Linked DNA regions of Homo sapiens. The protein of the gene in region 1 interacts with the protein of each later gene in a biochemical or structural test. Each region holds a gene or a part of one and is shown on either strand. Other genes may lie near its edges. The genes, in order: ICAM1 and EZR.

Region 1 (3,313 bases):
TCGTCAGAATCACGTTGGGCGCCGGAAAGCCTGGAATAGGCACACAGTGAGCCCCGCCCCGGGTTCAGGTCACACCCCCAAGAAGCCCCACTCCGCCCCTGCCCCTTCTTACTGTAGATGGTCACTGTCTGCAGTGTCTCCTGGCTCTGGTTCCCCAGTATTACTGCACACGTCAGCCGCTGGGTGCCCTCGTCCTCTGCGGTCACACTGACTGAGGCCTTGGCCGAGAAGGAGTCGTTGCCATAGGTGACTGTGGGGTTCAACCTCTGGTCCCCCAGTGCCAGGTGGACCTGGGCCTCCGAGACTGGGAACAGCCCGTCCAGGGAACAGACCACGGTCCCCTGCGTGTCCACCTCTAGGACCCGGGGGCTGACAAGTTGTGGGGGAGTCGCTGGCAGGACTAGGGAGAGAAGAAAGGTGTGAGCAGACAGGGATGGACGTCCCGAAGCCCTTCTCTGGGGCATTTCATTCCCCCTCCTGCGAGATCCTCTTCCAGGGCCACTCAGCAGCCTAGGTCACATACGCCTAGAACACATGCACCCCTTAGCCGGGGCCACACCCATCTCAAAAGATCCTGTGGCCACAGGCACCGCATTGCAGGATACCCCACCCCCACCTTCTCCCTGCTGGCTTCTTCAATCCTCACCAAAGGTCTGGAGCTGGTAGGGGGCCGAGGTGTTCTCAAACAGCTCCAGCCCTTGGGGCCGCAGGTCCAGTTCAGTGCGGCACGAGAAATTGGCTCCATGGTGATCTCTCCTCACCAGCACCGTGGTCGTGACCTCAGCGGGCTCCCCCACAGCTGGCTCCCGTTTCAGCTCCTTCTCCCCACGGAGCAGCACCACGGTGAGGTTGGCCCGGGGTGCCCCACCCTCCACCTGGCAGCGTAGGGTAAGGTTCTTGCCCACTGGCTGCCAAGAGGGGAGGGGTGCCAGTTCCACCCGTTCTGGAGTCCCTGCAGGAAAACAGAGGTGGGGGTGTCTGGTGAAGTGGACCTTGCTGCCTGCCTAACAGACGAACTGCACCTGCCTGGGAGCCCTACCTCTTCAGTATCTCCCCCAAACACGCCCAGACACCTAAGCAGATAGGAATGTCAAGATCTTCAGTGAAAACTGGTAAGAGGGCCCCGAGTGTTTGTGAAGGGGATCAAAATATTCCTTATTCATGACAGCAGCATCTTAGAGTGAAAAGTGGAAAAGAACTTCAAAGTCTATTGCTAGGTGTCTGGTCAAATAAATTCAGCAGCCCAGTGCACTAGACTGGGCAAACAGTGGCTCGATCTTGGCTCACTGCAACCTCTGCCTCTGGGATTCAGGGGATTCTCCTGCCTCAGCCTCCTGAGTAGCTTAGATTACAGGCACACACCACCACACCAGGTTAATTTTTGTATTTTTATTTTTAATTAATTAATTAATTAAGTTTTTAGACTGAGTCTCCTTCTGTCGCCCAGGCTGGAGGGTGATGGCATGATCTTGGCTCACTGCAACCTCTGCCTCCTGGGTTCAAGCAATTCTCCTGCCTCAACCTCCTGAGTAGCTGGGATTACAGGCACGTGTCACCACACCCAGCTAATTTTTGTATTTTTAGTAGAAACGGGGTTTCAGCATGTTGCCCAGGCTGGTCTCGAATTCCTGACCTCAAGTGATCTGCCCACCCCGGCCTCCCAAAGTGCTGGGATTACAGGTGAAAGTAAATGAGCCTGGCCTAGACATTCTTTAAAAAACAAAACAAAACAAAAAAAAAAACCTGTTGGCCAGGTGTGATGGCTCAGGCTGTAATCCTAGCACTTTGTGAGGCCAAGGCAAGAGGGTCACTTGAGGCCAGGAGTTCAAGACAAGCCTGGGCAACATAGGGAGACCCCCATCTCTAAGAAAAATTAAAAAAAGGTTGGCAGGGCGCGGTGGCTCACGCCTTTAATCCCAGCACTTTGGGAGGCCAAGGAGGGTGGATCCACGAAGTCAGGAGTTCGAGATAAGCCTGACCAACAGAGTGAAACCCCGTCTCTATTAAAAATACAAAAATTAGTCTGGCATGGTGGTGCACGCCTGTAGTCTCAGCTACTCGGGAGGCTGAGGCAGGAGAATCTCTTGAACCTGGGAGGTGGAGGTTGCAGTGAGCTGAGATCGTGCCACTGCACTCCAGCCTAGGTGACAGAGCGAGACTCCATCTCAAAATAAATGAATGAATGAATGAATGAATGGTTAACTGGGTGTGGTGGTGCACACCTGTAGTCCCTGCTACTTGGGAGGCTGAGGCAGGAGGATCACTTGAGCCCAGGAGTTTAAGGCTATAGTGAACTGTGATCATGCCACTGTACTTTAGCCTGGGAAAGAAAGACCCTGTTTCTATTAAAAAAAAAAAAAAGTCAGTAATGACAGAGTCTAATAACAAAAAGGCTGCGTGTGGTGGCTCACGCCTGTAATCCCAACACTTTGGGGGGCCGAGGCAGGCGGATCACCTGAGGTCAGGAGTTCAAGACCAGCCTGGCCAATATAGTGAAACCCCGTCTCTACCTAAAAATACAAAAATTAGCCAGGCGTGGTGTTGTGTGCCTGTAGTCCCAGCTACTTGAGAGGCTGAGGTTTACTTGTGAGGAAAGGATTACTTCAGCCCAGGAGGCAGAGATTGCAGTGAACTGAGATCGCGCCACTGTACTCTAGACTGAGTGACAGAGTGAGAGTCTCTCTCAGAGGAAAAAAAAAAAAAAAAAAAAAGCATCAGGACCGGGGGGGTCCTGCATTTGATACCCAGCCTTGCTTCTTTGCTGTGGGTAAGTGACTTTGTCTCTCTGAACCTCAGTTTCCTGAACTGTAAAATAGGGCTATTAAAGGTAGGAGAATTCACTTAAGAGGTAGACAGAGTCGCTGTACATAAGCAGGAGGTTTCTTTTTTAGAGTGATTGAAATATTTTAAAATTAGATTGTAGTCATGGTTGTTTGTACAGAAGTCATTGAATTATGTGCTTAAAAGGGATGAATCTTATGGTATTCTAAATCGTATCTCAAGAAAGCAAGGCTGGGGCATGGTGGCTCACATCTGTAATCCCAGTACTTTGGGATGCCAAGGCGGGGTCATTTGAGGCCAGGAGTTCAAGGCTAGCTTGGGCAACATTGCAAGACCTCATTTCTCCAAAAAAAAAAAAAAAAATTAAAAACAAGCTGGGCTTCGGCATGGCGTGGTGGCTTATGCCTGTAATCCCAGCACTTTGGGAGGCCAGAACAGATGGATCACCGGAAGTCAGGAGTTCAAGACCAGCCTGGCCAGGCCAGACATGGTGGCTCACGCCTGTAATCCCAGCACTTTGGGAGGCCAAGGC
Region 2 (3,815 bases), on another chromosome or scaffold:
TGTCAGCCCTGGAGCGGCTGCTCCGTCAGGCAGCTCAGGCTGGCAGCAGGCTAGGGTGGCCCTCAGGATACCAAGTCCATCCTGGAGCTTCAAGTACCCGTGAAGTGTGTTGACCCCTCACTTTCCTGCCAGAGTCTAAATCTCCCTGTGCCTCTTTTTCCCTGCACCAGGCAACAGCTGGAAACAGAGAAGAAAAGGAGAGAAACCGTGGAGAGAGAGAAAGAGCAGATGATGCGCGAGAAGGAGGAGTTGATGCTGCGGCTGCAGGACTATGAGGAGAAGACAAAGAAGGCAGAGAGAGGTCAGGCGCCCTGGGGCTGGCACTCTACACTGGGTCATGCATTTCCACAGAGTAGCAGGGGCCACACCCACCCACCCACTCACCAGGAAGGAAACCAAGAACGTGTCCCACAGCGCAGACTCACAGCCGAAATGATAAAATGGTTATTTGGTTTGGAAAACAGTTCTGTACTTATTTAACTTTGATGCTAGTTGTTCTAAGACTTTGTATTTTAAAATTTCCCTAGTCTTTTGCGGTAAGTGCTCAATCACCCAGTTTCCCCGATGAGGACAGTAAGGTTTGGTGCGGTACAGTGATTTGCCCACAGTCCCCCAGCCCATGACTGACAGGGCCATGCTGCACTGCCCTCGACCTCTAGACTAAAACCCAAAGGCGTGTTCAGAGCCAGACTTCCCAGCACAGCTCCAGTCAACAACCCCAGCAGCTGGGCCGATTACACAAGGCGCCACAGATGCTGTATTCACTGGCAGCCCTTACAGCACACATGGGAAGGGTGTTCTGTGTTCTGAGTGGAGTGTGGACCACCAGCACAGCGGGCGGCTGACCTGGGGAGAGTAGCGCCAAGAGGGTTGAGTCAGGCATGCCAGAGAGAGGGCGCCTGGCTGGCGTTGGACGGGTTTCTAGCCATCTTGAGGAAGTTGTCATGGATACAGCAGCAATGAGCTCTGTGAAGTGCTTTCCTCCAGGGTCACTGGAAGACATCCCCTCAACCTGTGACTTGGTCTAGGGCTCTGTGGCTTTGGGGGTGGGAATGGAAAGCGAGGGCTCCTAGGTCCCTGGGCTGAGGGTTTGAATGGCTCTGGCTTTGTGTCTTTGCAGAGCTCTCGGAGCAGATTCAGAGGGCCCTGCAGCTGGAGGAGGAGAGGAAGCGGGCACAGGAGGAGGCCGAGCGCCTAGAGGCTGACCGTATGGCTGCACTGCGGGCTAAGGAGGAGCTGGAGAGACAGGCGGTGGATCAGATAAAGAGCCAGGAGCAGCTGGTAGGAATGGCCTGAGTTTCAAGATGCTGAATTATAGAGAGGCTGCTTCTGAGGATGGAAAATGTGACACCTGCCTTGTAATAATTGTCATGACTGGAAGCTGTAAACTGATCTGCTGGGGGGCTGAAGGCAGCTGGTGGGGAAGGGGCTGGGCTGTTGCCAGGGTCACCCATTGAAGGTGGGTGTGGGCATCCAGGAAGAGATGCCGGGGGTGCACAATGGACCCTGCTGGCCATGGAGTGGGGGTGGCGGGGACTCAGGTGTCACGTTGGAGACTGCTTGCCAACACACATGAACACTCATTCACAACTGGACTCCGTTGAAAGGATATCAGAACTGACGTGAGCTTGGCATTCCCTTCCCAGGCTGCGGAGCTTGCAGAATACACTGCCAAGATTGCCCTCCTGGAAGAGGCGCGGAGGCGCAAGGAGGATGAAGTTGAAGAGTGGCAGCACAGGGTGAGTCTGCACGGGGGACACCTCCGCACGGCCACAGCACCTGTTGCCCAATTGCCTGCGGTGGGGCCCTTCTGCAGGTGGGTGGGTTGGGGGAGAGGTCTGGCTCAAGCTGCCACATCCCACTGGAAGCTTCTGGGATGTCTCATGATCCTCTGCCAATACCAGCTGTACTACTGAAGTAGACATCCCCAAAGAGATGGGTTTGACTTTGTACACGAGTCAGTGCAGCTGCTGGATTCATAGAGGGAGGACCTCTGATTGACTTTCACCCACTTTGCTCCCTCCACCCCGAACTGTTCAGTGCTGATCTGACAGCCCCCGGTCAGGAACTGGTTTTAAATCTAATTATATATGTGCCCCTTGCAATGGGGTCGCAGTGCCTGAAACACGACCTCCTGCAGCTAGTATATACAGCGGGCACCATGGAAAGATCCAGCTCCTTGGACGTCTCCAGGCTGGAGTGAGAGCTGGGCTCTGCTGCTCATCAGCTATTTGGGGGCTAGTAGCATCACTTCTTCAAGCCTCATTTTCCTCATTGTAGAATGGGGGCAATACCCAACTCATAAGGTTGCTCTGCAGATGCGAGGTCCCATGCCCAGGACCTAGCACAGAGGTTTAGTCAGCTGTAGCTCTCATTGTGGGACGCACACAGAGCTTGTCGCTCCGTCTGGGATCCCCTGTGCCCTCCAGGAAGGCACAGCCCCTGAGAAGCTCTGGGGATGGTTCCCACTGGAGACTGCACACCAGGCTTTAAGCAGCTCCTCTCCTTCACAGACCCGCTGGCCCGTCCTTCCCCCACTGTGGCTTCTCCATCTGTGGAGGTGCCTTCTGGGGACGTGTCTCCCGGCTCTCCAGGGCTGCTGCTGCCTAGTACCTCCTTGCCTCTGTTCCAGCCCCCATTCCCGCTGCCGATCTGTATTAGGCTGTTCTCACAACGGCTATAAAGAACAAGCTGAGACTGGGTAGTTAAAGAAAAGAGGTTTAATTGACTCACAGTCCCACATGGCTGGGGGAGGCCTCAGGAAATTTACAATCGTGGCAGAAGGCGAAGGGGAAGCAGGCACCTCTTACATGAGGGCAGAAGAGAGAAAAGCAAAGGGGGGTAATGCCAAACACTGAAACCATCAGCTCTTGCTCAGAACCCACCCACTAGCACGAGAACAGCATAGGGGAAACCACCCCGTAATCCAGTCACCTCCCACCAGGTAATGCCCCCCACCCCCAGCATGGGGGGATTACAGGTGGAGATGAGATTTGGGTGGGGACACAGCCATATCACCATCCCAAGTTGCAAGCGGAAGACTTTGGTTCTTAGGTTTTTGGAGAAAGTACCTGTTAAGTGAGGAGAGCTGGCTACAAAGCAGATCCACACTAAGCTCAACTCTAGGGCTGGCTGGGATGGAGGCGGGCGGGACTGGGTGTGTGTGAAGCTGTTGGAAGGACTGCAAGTGGCGAGCAGGAGAGCACTTGATAATGACTGTGGCATGAAGGGAGGCTAGGAACAGAGCCCGTTACTCATGCTAACAGGATTTTTTTTCTAAAAATTATATAATGTCTAGAGTTACAGGTAAAAAAAGAAATGGTAGTTTTAAAACTGCCCAGGTTCCGGCATCACAGTTCCTCTTCCTGTCTTGGACGCAGAGGGTTGTAAACCCCCCATGCACCCTGAGGGTGCTCCTCTTCGAAGCCACAGCCCAGCACAGTTCAGTGCTGCCTTAGCCTGCCAGGACAGAGGGAGGTGACAGTCTGTTCTCATAGCCAGGAGGATAGGACTTCTGGGTGAGAAGTCCTCTTATTAATTTGCTTTCCAAAGGCCAAAGAAGCCCAGGATGACCTGGTGAAGACCAAGGAGGAGCTGCACCTGGTGATGACAGCACCCCCGCCCCCACCACCCCCCGTGTACGAGCCGGTGAGCTACCATGTCCAGGAGAGCTTGCAGGATGAGGGCGCAGAGCCCACGGGCTACAGCGCGGAGCTGTCTAGTGAGGGCATCCGGGATGACCGCAATGAGGAGAAGCGCATCACTGAGGCAGAGAAGAACGAGCGTGTGCAGCGGCAGCTGCTGGTGAGGCCCAA

Evidence for each region.
Region 2: the proteins of ICAM1 (region 1) and EZR form a complex in vitro, tested with the Homo sapiens proteins (one study listed by BioGRID).

The regions. Positions count from the first base shown.
Region 1 is NC_000019.10:10,281,120-10,284,432, reverse strand, and holds part of ICAM1 (intercellular adhesion molecule 1 precursor), read right to left. Parts: intron 1,113-3,313; exon of another isoform or gene 983-1,112; intron 953-982; coding exon 647-952; intron 401-646; coding exon 113-400; intron 31-112; coding exon 1-30. UniProt on the Homo sapiens protein: ICAM proteins are ligands for the leukocyte adhesion protein LFA-1 (integrin alpha-L/beta-2).
Region 2 is NC_000006.12:158,767,250-158,771,064, reverse strand, and holds part of EZR (ezrin), read left to right. Parts: intron 1-170; coding exon 171-301; intron 302-1,120; coding exon 1,121-1,281; intron 1,282-1,646; coding exon 1,647-1,739; intron 1,740-3,552; coding exon 3,553-3,804; intron 3,805-3,815. UniProt on the Homo sapiens protein: Probably involved in connections of major cytoskeletal structures to the plasma membrane. In epithelial cells, required for the formation of microvilli and membrane ruffles on the apical pole. Along with PLEKHG6, required for normal macropinocytosis.